Regions from separate parts of the Homo sapiens genome. Here region 1 is linked to region 2. Evidence: fine-mapped expression QTL. Tissue or cell type: whole blood. Region 2 holds a variant in brackets; the other region holds the start of a gene. All regions are shown on one strand. Distances are from middle to middle.

Region 1 (8,103 bases), 630 kb before region 2:
GAGCCTAGGAGTTTGAGACCAGCCTGGACAACAACATGGTGAGACTCCATCTCTACAAAAAAAAAAAAAAAATTATTTTAAAATTAGCCAGGCATGGTGATGTACACCTGTAGTTCCAGCTACTTGGCTGAGACAGGAGGACTGCTTGAGGCCAGGAATTCAAGACCAGCCTGGTAAAGATGGCAAGACCCCATCTCTACATATATATATCTATAGATAGATAGATAGATTAATAGATAGATATGTATTAGCCAGGCACAGTCACACATGTTTGTAGTCCCAGCTACTTGGGAGGCTAAGGCAGGAGGATCACCTGAGCCCAGGAGTTAAGGGCTGCAGTGAGCCGTGATCACACCACTGCATTCCAGTTTGGGTGACAGAGTGAGGCTCTCTTAAAAAATTTAAAAATACTGAAGAAACAAAGGGAGGAGTTTGTAGAATCTGGAGTGGAGGAAACTTCTGTGTCACCAAACACAGAAACCATCAAAGAAAATCTTTCACTTCCAAAATTAGTCTATAGAAAAAAAAAAAGAAAATCTTAACCCAAATAAGAGACTGAGGCAAGAGCTTCAATCAATCGAGGTTTACTGAGCCAGAGTTGGAGCGTGCCCAGGAAAGCAACACAAGTCAAAGAAACGTCTGTGGCCTGTGCTCTCCCAAGAAGTTTTCAGGAGGCTCAATATTTGTACATTTCTTTAAAGGGGAGAAGACAGTGAGGCAAATGGTTATGTTTTTGTGAGACTCTTAATTAGTGTCCCGTAAATCTAAGCTATATGGAAGATAGGGTGAACACTGGAAGAACAGGGAGTAACAGAAGAGCCAATTATGCAGAGGTCTCAGGTTAGGTGGAGGAATGATTGATCTCATCTTATCCTTGTTCTGCACCTGGGCAGATAAACTTGTAATTGACATTGTCAGTGTGAAATTTAACAGACTTTGGTTTTAGGAGTTAGGTTTAGGTTGCAGACCTAAAGTTGCAGTTGACATGTCCTTGTTTTATAGGAGGATATACATCCTGAAAGTTTTAGGGACTGGCAAAGAATTTACTGCTGAGCAATTTGTGATTGCAGTCACCTGGAGATTCATGAGGCTTTTTGCCTTTTTGTGGGGATCTGGTTAATGCATAATATTTTGACACAAGGTTGCAAGGTAACAGGTATCCATTTGGGAAAAGAATGACAGTTTTGGAGAACATTAGTTCTGCAGCATAGAATGAAGTGTTGCCGGAATAAAATTAAAAAAAAAAAAAAAAGGCTGGGTGTGGTGGCTCATGCCTGTAATCCTAGCACGCCTGTAATCCCAGCACGCCTGTAATCCTAGCACGCCTGTAATCCCAGCACGCCTGTAATCCCAGCACTTTGGGAGGCCGAGGCGGGTGGATCACCTGAGGTCTGGAGTTCGAGACCAGCCTGATCAATATGGCGAAACCCCATCTCTACTAAAAATACAAAAATTAGCTGGGCATGGTGGCGGGTGCCTGTAATCCCAGCTACTGGGGAGGCTGAGGCAGGAGAATTGCTTGAACTCGGGAGGCGGAGGTTGCAGTGAGCCGGGATTGTGCCAGTGCACTCTAGCCTGGGTGACAGAGCAAGACTCCATCTCAAAAAAAAAAAAAAAAAAAAAAAAAAAAAAAGGAATGCCAGTGTTGTGTGGCTCAGTCTCCAAGCTTAACTCTCCCTTTAGCATAACAAATTTGGGGGTCCTGAAATTTTTATTTTCCTTTATGAAAAGATCAATAATCCATTTGCATAAAAAATAAAGTCTATATGGAAAAAGCCACCATCACAGCCAAAACACAAATAACAAACTGTAACTTGTTACAAACAGCATACTTGTAACTCATTTCAAAATAAAGAGCTGATTTCTCTAATATATAAAGAGCTCTCATAAGTCAATAAGAAAAAGACCAATGGTAGCCAGGCGTGGTGGCACATGCCTGTAATCTCAGCTACTCAGGAGGCTGAGGCAGGAGAATCACTTAAGCCCAGGAGGCAGAGGTCATGGGGAGCCGAGATCACACCATTGCACTCCAGCCTGGGCAACAAGAGCGAAACTCTGTATCAAAAAAAAAAAAAAGAAAAAGAAAAAGACAAATGGCCCAGTAGAAAGTGTGGCAAAGGATACAAACAGACCATTCACAGAAAAAGATAGATAAATAACATCTCTCAGGAAAGTACCTCCCAGTCACCCTTTGTTGGAAAGTTGTTGAAGGATGCACTTCAGCAAAATGAGGGAGTAAACCAAGAGACATAGGCTTAAGATCCAGGCAAGAGTGAGGCGCTTAGGAGCCCAGGAAGCCAGAAGAGCCTGGTAGCACTGAAGGAACACTCAGGCCACCTTGGAACAGAGAGGATGGGATTGCCATGTGGTTCCACATGGCTCTGAAAATAGACAATGGCTAAGCTGTGCAACAGACTGCCTATGACATTTGGTTGCCCAGAGCTTCTGTGAAAATACTTCAGGACAAGGCTTTCCCCCACCCAGGGGTGGGTTGGGGAATAGAGTGTATGCACTTTGTTTTGTCCAATTTTAGACTTTAAAATCCTCTGAGGCATCAACTGGTGAGGGTGAGGAAGTGGCCCCATAGACTGAATTGGGCCTGCCCCACCCTGGTACCTTTCTGTTCTGTCACAGTGACAATTCACAGCTCAGAGGTCCTTTGGGAAACTTTCTCTGACATCGCCCCTATCCTCTTGCCAGCTGGATGAAGCAGCATCCACCAGAACTGCTACCATCACTGCAGGGGGCTTGGTGGGCAGAGGCCTGGCTTGTCTCCATTAGCACTGCGTTCCTGTGCCCAGTGTGGCCCCAGCAGACACTGTGGGTTCAGTCAATCAGCCCCCAGGCTGGTCTGGGACTGAGTCATCGGAGGGAGTGGGTGTTGGGCACAGGTCCCTGCCCTAAGAACCTTCCTTCTTGGGCCCGAGGAACTCCCACTGGGGCAGGACTAGCTGCTGGGAGGAAGTAGGGCTTACTGAGCGTCTACCTGGGCTAGGGAGTGGAGGTGAAGGTGGACTCCTCATACAGCTCATATGCAGGCACTGGGCTGTGGAGCCTTAGCCGCTTTTAATTGGCAAGCCCTGGCTTCCTGGAGGAGGAAAGGGGAAGAGAAGTGCCCTGGGGGCGAGGATTGAGTCAGCTGCATTGTCATAATGGAAATAGTACAGCCCTGGGTGTCCAAGACTTCCCCTCCATGGGCCTCAGAATCGTCCATATGATGTAACACTCTTTTTTTTGAGACTGAGTCTCGCTCTGTTGCCCTGGCTGGAGTGCAGTGGCTCCATCTCGGCTCACTGCAACTTCTGCCTCCTGGGTTCAACCGATTCTTGTGCCCCAGCCTTCTGAGTAACTGGGATTACAGGCGCACACCACCACGCTTGGCTAATTTTTAGTACAGACGGGGTTTCACCATGTTGGCCAGGCTGGTCTCGAACTCCTGACCTCAAGTGATCCGCCCGCCTCGGCCTCCCAAAGCACTGGGATTACAGGCGTGAGCCACTGCCTCCGGCCAAAGTAACACTTTTGCACAGGGAGTTGGACTTGAGTGACAAATGGGTGACAAAGTGCTTTGTTAACTCGCAGATGTGAAGGGGACACTGCGGCTGACCGCCTGGTGACAGCTAGCCAGTGGTTGAGAGACCGCAAGATGGTTCCTCGTCTTTCACTTCCCTCCGTCCCAGGTCTGAACTCGGACCAGCTGGAGCCTTTGGGGGACCACGGATTCCCCTTTACACTCACACAGATTTCTCTTGTCCGTCACTCACTCACAGTCCAGTAAGGATCCTGCTGTCTATTCCGCGAAGACATCTTGAATGCAGGGACAGCCATTTGGAAGACTGTCCTCGAGGGTGGCAGCAGCCTCTCAGGACGGGGAAAGCCAAGGTGCCCACTAAGCCCGTCTGGGGTGGAGGGTGGCAGGCCGGGGTGGAGAGGATTGGAGGCCGCCTGAAGGAACCTGTGCTCGGTGGCATTTACTCAATGTGGGGGTCTGACACCTCCCAGCTCATTTTGTCCCCATCTTCCCCTTGCGTCAGGTCCCCACCCAGCAGGAGGAGGTCCGAGGATCTGCGCGACGCTGGCCCCGCGGAGTGTGGGGGACTTTTCCTCTCAACCACCAGTGCCCCGCAAGCGTGGGTGAACAGTCCTCCCTGGCTACTGTGGGACGCTGGGCAGGCGACTTCGCCTCTCTAGGCCTCGGTTTTCCTGCTTGTCAAATGGGGCTGATGCCGGCGTGGGCTTCTTCAGGCGGTCGCGAGCGTTGACCCCTGGAGTCAGCGAACCAGCCGCGCACGCACTCCCGGGCGGAGGTCGGGGCTGGGGGGCGACGCCTCCCGTCTGCGCGCCCCCGGCCCCGCCTCCCGCCGGCGCACCCCTCCCTCGGCTCCGCCCGCGGCCCGCTTCTTCCTCCCGCGGGCGGCCCAGCCCTAGCGCCCCGCGCTCCGCGGGCAGCCCCCTGCCGCCGCGCCATGTCCGCCGGCTGGTTCCGGCGCCGCTTCCTGCCTGGGGAGCCGCTCCCCGCGCCGCGGCCGCCTGGGCCGCATGCCAGCCCCGTGCCCTACCGACGGCCCCGCTTCCTTCGCGGCTCCAGCTCCAGCCCCGGGGCGGCCGACGCCTCGCGCCGCCCAGACTCCCGGCCCGTGCGCAGCCCCGCACGAGGACGCACGCTACCCTGGAATGCAGGCTACGCCGAGTGAGTGCCCCTCCCCGACCCCCAGCTCAGGCCCGGGCCTGAACCCGCTTCGGGTCCTGCGCCCGCCTAGAAAGCGGGAGGAGCTGAGTGACAGTCCCCACCCACCTGTGGACAGCCCCTTCTTGCCCTCACCTCCGAATCCTGACAACTTCCCGGTCATCCCGACCCAGCGTTTTCCTTGGGATTCCGACCTCCCCCTCAGAGAAGACAGGAGGTCGGGAAGGACCTGCAGCCCAGGGGCTTCCAAGATGAGGCCCAGAGACTCGGTAGAGTTCCAGCATTCGGGGCTTTGGAGATTTCCCCTCGCCCTCTACCCCCACCATCTCACCCTGGGTATGACCTGCGCTGTATGGGACAGGGCTTTGGGCTGCGACAGGACAGGGGCAGGAATGGCAACCTACCCTTACCGTCTAGCCCTGGGTCACCAGGTAGGCTCCAGAGGAGCTGGGCCCTGACTTTTACCTTAGCCATGAGGCCAGTGAAGTTAGGAAGCTTACATCGTGGTTGTCTAAGTGTGTGTTAGGGACAGCACTGGGGAGCTGTTGCCCCAGAGGGAGGGGTCTTCTCCCTGTGCTGGCTTGGGTCCCTGTGCCCATGGGGACATAGGTGTGTCCCTGGAGGGTCGCTTACCATTTCCCGGCCTCAGGATTATCAATGCAGAGAAATCTGAATTCAATGAGGATCAAGCCGCCTGTGGGAAGCTGTGCATCCGGAGATGTGAGTTTGGGGCTGAAGAAGAGTGGCTGACCCTGTGCCCAGAGGAGGTGAGTGCAGTCTGAGTTCTTGGCTGGAATCCCTCCGACAGGCTGGGGCCACGACCTGCAGGCTGAGGTTCTTACCCTGCTGCCCCAGGTCCTAGTTAGGTTGCGTCAGGGGACAAGTGGGGAAGTCAGGCAGAGGCTGACACTGAGCCCTTCCTGTGCAGTTCCTGACAGGCCATTACTGGGCACTGTTCGATGGGCACGGCGGTCCTGCAGCAGCCATCTTGGCTGCCAACACCCTGCACTCCTGCTTGCGCCGGCAGCTGGAGGCCGTGGTGGAAGGCTTGGTGGCCACTCAGCCCCCCATGCACCTCAATGGCCGCTGCATCTGCCCCAGTGACCCTCAGTTTGTGGAGGAAAAGGGCATCAGGGCAGAAGACTTGGTGATCGGGGCATTGGAGAGTGCCTTTCAGGAATGTGTGAGTGTGTGGCTTTTGGCTGGGGAAGAAGTGGAGATTTTGCCCCGGGGATCTCAGGAAATGGCATCTCTGTATACCCATGGTCATCACACCAGATCCTTGGATTGGGAGGATGAGATTGGGTTGGTTGGATTGTTACTAACAGCCATCACTATCAGCATAACCCCTCTCATTTATCCAGCACCTACTGTGTGCTAACTGCTTTTACCTGCATCATCTAATTGAATACCCTATTGGTCCTTGGTGCAGGGGCTGGTTTCTCTTCCTATTTTGAGTAGCACTTCCCTTGTCTAGATCTCCTGACTGCAGGGATCTTGGAGGTATGGCTGGACTTTGGGCTGGGACTGTCAGGCCTGCTGGTAGAAGTGAACTGTAGGGTAGGGTGGGGATTGAGAGACAAAGTAGTATGGTGGCAGAACAGGCAGCAGCTAAGGTGGCCTCGGTTTTCCCCAGGATGAGGTGATCGGGCGGGAGCTGGAGGCCTCAGGCCAGATGGGCGGCTGCACAGCCCTGGTGGCTGTGTCCCTGCAGGGAAAGCTGTACATGGCCAATGCTGGGGATAGCAGGTGAGTCACCCCTTGGAGGGTGGGCAAGGGTGGGATGGGGAGGGCATAAGCAGCAATGGGGACAAGCAAAGGTGGCTGGAAGTGGAGGGATAGTAGGAAGGATTGACTGGCTGAATTGTGTGTGTACTTGTTATGTGTCGAGTGTGGACAGTGGCTGCCGGGGAGGGCAGGGACCTCAAAGGCCCCGCTAAAGGGCTAAGCCTTCACCCTTGCAGGTCTTAGGTAGTCATGGAGGGCTTTAAGGGATCATCATGGACAGAGCTGGATCCTGGTGGTTGGAGGAGGGACTGGTAGGAGGGTGGCCATGGGTGAGGGTGGAGGCCTCCTCCTAGACCTCTCCCTTCTCTCCTCAATCCAGGGCCATCTTGGTGCGGAGAGATGAGATACGGCCACTGAGCTTCGAGTTCACCCCAGAGACTGAGCGGCAGCGGATCCAGCAGCTGGTAGGTGCCCTTGGCAGCATGGAGGCTGTGAAGCTCCAACTCCTGGGTCCAGGGCCATAAGAAGGAGTATGACCTGAGCGCAGCCTCCCCACCCCAGGCCTTTGTCTATCCTGAGCTTCTGGCTGGTGAGTTCACCCGACTGGAGTTCCCTCGGCGGCTGAAGGGGGATGACTTGGGACAGAAGGTTTTGTTCAGGGATCACCACATGAGTGGCTGGTGAGTGGGGATGGGGGACAGGTAGGAAGGGAGACCCCTGGGATCCAGGCCCAGCCGTATGGCCTGGGGCCCCCCTCCACCTTGGCAGGGTGGCACTGTGAGGGTGTGACAGCTGGGCCCTGAGTTGGGGAAAGATGAGATGGGGCACAGGGCTTGGGTTGATGCTGGCTCTGCTCCTGGTAGGAGCTACAAACGTGTGGAGAAATCGGATCTCAAGTACCCACTGATCCATGGACAGGGTAGGCAGGTCAGTGCCTGGTCCTCCTCAACCCCAAGAATCCCTCTTCATTGTCCCCTGCAGAGGTGGGAGCTCCTTTGCCTCTTGCTGGTAGCTGTGGCTGGTGGCCTGGGATTTGCTCTGAGACTAGGAATTTTCTCTCTCAGTCCAAGGCTTCCAAGGGCCACAGTCCACCTCTCCCTGTGTGCTCTGCAGTGCTAGGGCCTGGTACTTGTGCATTTGCTGGAGCTGTTTGCCATCGCCTCACACCTCACTTTCCCTCAGGCTCGGTTACTAGGAACACTGGCTGTCTCCCGGGGCCTGGGAGACCATCAGCTCAGAGTCCTGGACACAAACATCCAGCTCAAGCCCTTCTTGCTCTCTGTGCCACAGGTAAGGGGGCAACGCTGTCCAACCCAGCTTCCATCTGCCCAGAAAGGCAGACAGTGAGGCTGGTGGGAGTCGGGAAGGGAGTGTGCAGGATCCTCAGGCTTAATTTGTAGGTGACTGTGCTGGATGTGGACCAGCTGGAGCTACAGGAGGATGATGTGGTTGTCATGGCAACTGATGGACTCTGGGATGTACTGTCCAACGAGCAGGTGGCATGGCTGGTGCGGAGCTTCCTCCCTGGGAACCAAGAGGACCCACACAGGTACTGTAGCTGCTGGGGACCTGCCTGGGCCTGGGTTGGTGCCAGCAGCAAGCCCAAGTAGTTATGGCTGAGAAGACAGAGCACTGACAATGAGCTGGCAGCTGGCCAGGATCAGGGCTGTCTCAAGCTTCTTGGAGGA
Region 2 (8,103 bases):
TGTCCAGGTGTTTACTGTCAATTCAACAAGTTTCATGAATTTCTGTGATGGGTTCTCCCAGAAGCAGTTTGCAAGTTATTAGTCCTACAACAGGAAGGACTAAACTGCTTTGGTTATGGATGATGTAAGCTGTACGCAAGACTGTCAGAGGCCAACTACTCCAAAACTTTCTTCCTCGTAAATAACTGGAAGTCAGGATGAACTGGCTCGGCAAAGACTCCCTCACCATATCTGACCTGATTTTTAATTATCTATTTTTTTAATTTTATTTTTTGAGACGGAGTCTCGCTCTGTCGCCCAGGCTGGAGTGCAATGGCACAATCTCGGCTCATTGCAACCTCCGCCTCCCGGGTTCAAGTGATTCTCCTACCTCAGCCTCCTGAGTAGCTGGGATTACAGGCATGCACCACCACACCCAGCTAATTTTTGTATTTTTAGTAGAGATGGGGTTTCACCATGTTGGCCAGGCTGGTCTCAAACTCCTGACCTCCAGTGATCCACCCACCTTGGCCTCCCAAAGTGTTGGGACTACAGGTGTGAGCCACCACGCCCGGCAACCATATCTGACCTTAAAAACAAGAAGCTGATAATCTGGTCTAAGTGCTCATGAACATTTTTTGGTAAAGACTTAATTTCTTCTGAACCAGATGAAGCCCAGGTTCTAAGTTTAGCCAGCTTTAATCCTGCTCCATGGAGGTTTGGCCGAAGGCTGAGAAATAAATAACAAAAACAAAAAGCAACAACCTCCCCCCACCACCCTAAATTGTCTAGCAAATAAATATGCTAAATTCTCTGAACACAGGCCTCCTTGAAACCACTGCTTCCCCCAGGAGCAGGGCTGTGGTGTCATCTGCTAAGATAATGATGGCAGTAGGAGCGAGGGGGCATTATCACTGTATGTGTGTTCCATGGGGGATTCTGTTTGATGGAAAGAAATACAAATTGCTGATAAACACATATGCAACCTTAATAACAGCAATTTTGAAGATGCAAATTAGTATTGATTTTTGCCCAGATTAGCAAAGGTTAAAACATTTGGTGAGGATATTAGGAAACAGGTACTCTTAAAACACTGGTAGAAAAGCGAGTTGTACAACCACTTGGTAAGTGTGGGGAAGTGGATTTGCAATTCTCGGCTCCAGAACCACCCAGGTTAAAGAAGTCATTAAACTGGTACCAAGGGTAGCCTCAGTGAACTAACTGAGCCTTCTGGGAACCAGACACTAGAGGCAGAGATATCAGAGTTGCTGCTCCAAGAGCCCTAGGGGTGGGGTGGGAGGTGCAGGGATGAGGCTTCCAGGATGCAGAATTTGACCTAAGAGCCAAGAGGCGCTGGGGACCTGTAAGTACTTGCTAATGAGGGCTTGTTAGTGTACGTTCTTCCTGAATACTGATGGAAGCCCCAAGAATAATGGGGCTGTCCTGGAAGGACCCTACCCTGTGAGCCAGTATCCTGGGCAGCTGGGGAACTCACAGAGAAATGCTGCATCTGCTCCTGCCATGCATCACCACTACACTGCTAACTCCAATTCCCTGGACAAATAAATTCAGGAATTTCATTCAATCTCATAGCGGGCAACGATATGTGTGTGTGTGTTTTCCACCAGTCCACAAAACACATGAAAAGTTGCGTCAGGTTATTTTGGCATATCTATCACGATTTTAAATGTTTATAAACTGTGACTCAGCTTTTCCTCTATAGTTACACCTCCACAAATGCCCACAAGTCTGTGTAGAAGAGCACTCACTGCAGCATTGTCTTTAAGAGTGGAAGATTTAGAAACCAGCTAAATGTCCATCGATAGGGAAGGGGTTGATCATATGTGATTATGCAATGGATGTCAACTGTGAAGTATACTTACAATGCGTGAGTTTTATGGTACATAAATTATACCTCAATAAAACTATTTAAAAAGTGAGGTAGATCTATCTGCATTGAAATGGAAAAAACCCTCATGCTAAATGGGGGGAAAAAAGCAAATCATTAAAACGGTCAATGTGTAATGTGAACCTATTTTTATACATCAACAAAAGATACACACACACACAGAAATTCAGAGGCATATACAATAAACTATTAACCATGGTTAGCTCTCTAGAGGATGGACTTACAGTGAACTGAACTTTCACTTTCTATGCTATGTCTTTTCATAATGTTTTAGTTGCTTACAGTGAGAATGTATTACTTTTGTAGTAACAACAAAAAAGAGGCTGGTCATGGTAGCTCACACCTGTAATCTCAGCACTTTGGGAGGCTGAGCCGGGCGGATCACTTGAGGTCAGGAGTTTGAGACCAGCCTGGCCAACATGGGGAAACCCAGTCTCTACTGAAAATAAAAAAATTAGCTGGGCGTGGTGGCTACTCGTGAGGCTGAGACACCAGAATCGCTTGAACCTGGGAGGTGGAGGTTGCAGTGAGCCAAAATCTTGCCACTGCACTCCAGCCTGGGCGACAGAGGGAGATTCTGTCTCAAAAAATAATAATAGATAAATAAAATAAAGGTCTCTGCTGCTAAAAACAATAAATTAAAAATGACTAAATTACAATTTTGCACATTAGATAATTAAAAACCTTCCTCAAACCCAACTCATTTAGAAAATCTCCTTCTAAGAGAAAAGCTTCCAGCAGGCAGAACTCACGAGAGACGGAAAATGCGCCACTTTAGTCTGCAACTGAACCCACATCAAGGAGGTCTAGGATCACTGCTGCGCTGTTATCTATGGTAGATGGGAGGTCCCTGTGCTCCTGTATGCTAACAGGCATAAGCTGGAATAAAATGTTCATTGTGTATGTTTCTACTTTTTTGTATTCCCCAGTTTCACTACCTCTTAAAAATTAACAAATAGTTCTAATTTGTGTTGGATAAGAGGACCTTGACTATAAAAAGTTTTCTTTACCCAAAGAACTGACCTTCACTGCAACCTTGTGGTTAGTCAAATTCTTAGAAGAAGGCATGGCCGTGGAGTCTGCATTTCTCAGAGGTAACACGTGTAGCCCCTGGCCAGCCCCACCACAGAAGCTCATCCTCAGCTCAAGCAGCACAGACATTAATCTCTCTGCCTCCTAGTCAGAGGAGACACCTGCTGGCCCCCTCACACAGTGGCCCCATCACACAGCAAATCGCAGGTTAGATTTCTGTCCCCGTAACCCAAGGCTCCCACACCATTCTAGCTGCTTAGAGTGGTCCCAACTTGGCAGAGAACAGAATGAATAACGGGTATGGAGAGGGGTACTTTTGATGTTGTTTTCACTCTTTGAATCTGGAAGGAAAGGGTGGGAGTCTTGAGGTCCACCTGTCAAGAGTTAAGTCCAGAAGCCAAAGGACATCAAAGTTGCCAATTCACTTAACTGGGTCACTCAACTTACTAGGATAAACCCCCAGTGCAGTAGGTTTCATTCATAAAGATGATTACACCTGCCCTCTTGACATCTGTAGGTCAAATACTTTAAATGCCATTCCCCAGCAGGGGTGGAGGGGCCACTCAGCCGGCCCCCTCCCTCATCCAGAAGCCCTTGTGAGCACTGAGAGGTACCCATGAGCAGCCAGCTCACCTGGAGAAGCAGTGTGAGGGTGGCTGGCAAGGACAGGCTCACCTGACATGATCCCCAACAGCACCCTGCTTTACCATCAAAGACAGCCTCCTCTACTCCCTAAAGCCAGTATGCATTCAACTGAGTTCCCATGAGGAGATCTGAGAAAGTCTCATCACATAAGGTGTTATCAACATCAGCAATACTGGTGGCCCTAGACACTTAAGCTAAATTAATTCCATCATTCCTCACTCAACCCTAGGAAGTGGATAGAATCATCCTAATTTTCAGATGGCAAAACTGATGCTCAGAGCAGTTAAGGAACTTGCTGAAGTCCAACAGGCAGCAAGCACTAGGGTCAGGACCAGAACCCAGGCCACTGCTGACCCTCACCTACCACTGAACAGCAAGGCACCAGCATCAGGACTGATGGAGCCTGGTCCCTTGATACAAAACGCAAAGCTTATCAAACTTGGGCCTTTATGTGCAACCCAGACAGCATTATCGAAAAACAAGAATGGCTTCTAAAAGAGAATTAGCTTAGAACACTTAAATCTACAGTTGGCCCTTGAAGAACATGAGTTTGAACTGCATGGGTCCACTTATACACGGATTTTCTCCCATCTCTGCCACCCGACACGGCAAGACCAACCCTGAATCCTCCTCCTCCTCGGCTTTCAATTTGAAGATCAAGAGGATGAAAACCATTACGAACACAAGTTTTC[A/G]TGATAATCCACTTCCATTTAATGAATAGCAGATACATTTTCTCTTCCTTATGATTTTTCTTACTAACATTTCTTAATAACATTTTTTCTCATTTTATTGTAAGAATACCATATATAATACATATATAAAATATGTGTTAATTGGCTGTTTATGTTATTGGGTCAGGCTTCTAGTCAACACTAGGCTATTAGCAGTTAAGTTTTTGGGGAGTCAGAAGTTATATGCGGGTTTTCAACTGTGTGGAGTGTTGACTGCTCTAACCCCCACGCTGTTCAAGGATCAACTGTGGGTGGAAAAACAATTCAAGAATGTTATTCTACACTGAAGGTAGGTGGCTAGTGTCTACATTTATAATATATACATAGTCCAAAATTTCAAGGCTTGTGATAAAAAGTCAACTCAAGTCTTAATGCAGGTTAAAACTGAGAATGGCCATTGAAGTTCACTGGCACAGGCCACACTGGCTGAGTCCATAACAGGTCTCCTCTGACACACCCTGCCTGTGGCTGCTTCTGCCATCACTCTTTAACACAGCTCACGCTTTTGGGCAACCCAGTGCCTGCCTCTGCCAGACCAGCCTGAAGCTGGGAGAGGGAAGGAAGAAAGCCCATGTTTACCAAGAGTGTGCAACATCCCTCCACCTTCACATGCCTCAGCCACCTGCCACTGGCTGCGGCTCCAGGCTTGTGCTCTTGGGCTGTCATGACCAAGTGGCACAATGTTAGGAAGGTCAGTTCGTAGGTGGGAAGAGTTCCCTTTCTCATGCCATAGTCTAGAACAAACTCCCTGGACAAACCAATGAGCATAAGTAAATGTGTGCCATGGCAGGGGGCACAGAAACAGCAGTAAGAGTAGGCATTGGAGGGGAAAGGGCAGAGGCCTAGGACAGAGGAATTCTGGGTTCTAGTCCTGGCTCAGCCTCTGACCTGCTGGAAAGTCTCCGGTGAGCCATTCAATCCCTCCAGTTCGACCTGTACATGAAGTCTTGGATTAAGCTGTATTTTCCCAATTCTAATAACTGATGACATGGTGTGAACTGTCCTACCTCCCCAGGGTTGTGTGACGTGGCGGCCAGTCAGCCATGGTGGGCCTCAGTGAGCTAACACTCAGCACCCACCCTGCACCCGGCAGTGCCAAGCACTGTATCTCACTTAATTCTCATAACCCATTAAGATAGGTAATCACTGGCCGGGTGTGGTGGCTCACGCCTGTAATCCCAGCACTTTGAGAGGCTAAGGCGGGCAGATCACGAGGTCAGGAGATCGAGACCATCCTGGGTAACACAGTGAAACCCTGTCTCTACTAAAAATACAAAAAATTAGCCAGTGTGGTGGCACATGCCTGTAGTCCCAGCTACTCGGGAGGCAGAGGCAGGAGAATAGCATGAACCCGGGAGGTGGAGCTTGCAGTGAGCTGAGATCGCGCCACTGCACTCCAGCCTGGGCGACAGAGCAAGACTCCGTCTTAAAAAAAAAAAAAAAAAAAGACAGGTAATCACCTCCCCTATCTTGAGAAGAAGAAACAGTCTCAGACAGATAAAGTCAGACAGCACTGGAAAAACTACCATAATGTGGCCTGGTGGTCATGAGAGGCAAGGGACCAAATTTACGCAGTCTGATGCTAGACACCACGCATGTGACCAACAGGCTGTACCATCTCTGTTCCCTGGTCTAGGAACCCTATGGTCCAGGCTATACCACCTCATGCCCTGGTCTAGAAGTCTGATGGTCCTGGCTGTACCACCTCTGCTCCCGGGCCTAGGAACCCTATGGTCCAGGCTGTATCACCTCTTTGCCTGGTTTAGGAATCCTATGGTCCTGGCTGTATCACCTCATTCCCTGGTCTAGGAACCCTGTGGTCCCGGCTGTACCACCTCTGCTCCCTGGTCTAGGAACCCTATGGTCCTGGATGTATTAGTTTTGTTTCCTTGTGTAGAAACCCTACATTCCTGGCTACACTATCTCTGTTCCCTGGTCCCTTTGGATGACAAAGACTTTTCTCCCTGATTGTCTCGTGAGCCTACCTAAATGCATTTTTATTCTGATAGCATCGAACAGAAACATCTCCACTGGTTTTCCAAGGGCACACACCTACAACCAAGAGAAGCTGGCTGGTTATGAAGCTACATAAAGAAGTCAAGGACAAGTCCAAGTTCAGAGGACCAGCTCCCCAGGGTTCCAGAAGGCCATATCTAACCTTCTCAACAGATAAGAGCCGATAGGACACTGCCTTCAGGAGTGGGTGGGACTGCCAATAGCATGGCAGATGAGCAGTCTACTGAGAGGCTCCAACGGCAGTGCAAGTGCACGGATGTTGCGATAGCATCCACTGACTTTGTGAGGGTGTTACACCTTTACTCAAGCAAAAAAACTCTTCTTCTGGGAACACTGGGCTTTACCTTAGAATTTTATTGATGGAAGAGAATTAATAAGCATGCTAGGCAGAACAATTAAAGGAAGACCAGTTCTTCTCATGATACTAGAATTATTAAATTACACATAAGACCTTTGCCCTAGCTCCTCAGCCCAATGAAGTTGGCACCCAGAGTCTTCTCCTTTCAAACCATACAAGTTGTGTAACTAGGCAGATCTGAGAAGAGAAACAACAGAGCTCATGTCCTCAGTCCCCAGGCCTACGAGTCAGGTGGCCAGAGACAGGGCAGCAGACAGCAGCCAAGGCAGCCTTTGACCACCAGGAGGCTTGGGACCTTAACAAATCATCACCCGCTATGAGCTAAAATACCTGTAGCCCTACTTGGCCGGCAGTGGGAATCCCTTCCAGAGTAGTCTGATGGATACTTCAGGAGCCTTGAGGTTCTTCTCACAGCTACTGACGCCTCTCCTCCACTTAGGAAGAACAGGAGGACCAGGAGGGAAGAACAAGTGATACACGAGAAGCATGTACACCAGTACAGGGGGATATACAATGTAAATAAACCAAGACTCTGAGAACTGGGAACACCGGCTGCGTGAGGAAAGGGAGAGTCTCAGTCAGAATAGGATTCCTCAACTCCCAATGCTCACTTTGTTCATCTCTCTACTTAGATCTCTCAAATTTTCCTTCCACAAAGGAGCTGGAAAAACCACCATCACATGGCATGGAAGTCATAAAAGGCACCATGAAATTAAGTTTTTCTGCCCCTCTTGTCCTATCATGCAGAGTGCATGGTAAGCACCCCAAGGCATGAGGCTGGCAGAGAGCTTGCTTAAAGAACACGTGGAAAAGGAGCTCTGCCTCCTAGCCAGCCTCCTTCCCTGAGGGCTCTGAACCCTAGCTACATGAAGTGAGGGGAAGCCACCAGAGCCTCTGGAATTCTGGAGACGGGCTTGCTGGGTGATGTTTCTGGGGTTGTATCACAATGATGTCTTCTTTGATTCCTGCCTTCCTAAAATTCTAGAAAGAACATAAATCAACCCCAGAGAATCAGCATGCTCTGGCCCTGCTATTTCTCATTTGAAACAGGTTTGCTATGCCAGCTCCCACTCAGAAAGGCCAAGCATAGTTCATGAGATCCTAGATAAAAGGAGGCTTAGGGCCCGGGTGGGGCCCTCCAACCTGTCCTCAGACTCTCCAACCAGGCAACGGTGTGCATCAAGAGAGTCCCAATCAGCACGCATCCTTCTGACGTGCTCTTCACCAAGCCACCTGCAGGAGACTTAGCTTCGCACACCTGATGCTATACAAGAGGGACCAGATGTGGGTGGGGCAAGCACAGAACCAGAGAAAGCAGAGTTAAAACACTGTCAAGAGTGGACCAAACAACAAATATGTACAATTATTACATATTCATTATAAGTAAAAAGAAAAAAAGACCAAATCATCTGCTATAAGAACCAGGAGAGTGG

Evidence for each region. PIP is the estimated chance that this variant, and not a neighbour inherited with it, causes the effect.
Region 1: it holds the start of PPM1M, and the variant in region 2 is fine-mapped to the expression of PPM1M in whole blood (TOPMed, PIP above 0.99).

Annotation. Positions count from the first base shown.
Region 1 is chr3:52,241,359-52,249,461 of GRCh38, forward strand. It overlaps PPM1M (protein phosphatase, Mg2+/Mn2+ dependent 1M), which reads left to right and starts at 4,401. Exons shown (of 10, transcript NM_144641.4): 1 at 4,401-4,690; 2 at 5,337-5,454; 3 at 5,616-5,870; 4 at 6,324-6,436; 5 at 6,795-6,879; 6 at 6,977-7,095; 7 at 7,279-7,342; 8 at 7,598-7,705; 9 at 7,816-7,964. The coding sequence starts at 4,467. RefSeq lists an enhancer at 1-2 and silencers at 4,275-4,644, 4,685-4,744.
Region 2 is chr3:52,872,370-52,880,472 of GRCh38, forward strand. The region is part of intron 1 of STIMATE-MUSTN1 (STIMATE-MUSTN1 readthrough); the gene reads right to left. All of the region lies in intron 1 of STIMATE (STIM activating enhancer), which reads right to left. Among named protein-coding and RNA genes, the nearest start is that of STIMATE, 21 kb to the right of the region's middle. RefSeq lists a silencer at 174-444. The variant A/G (reference allele first, on the strand shown) is at 4,258.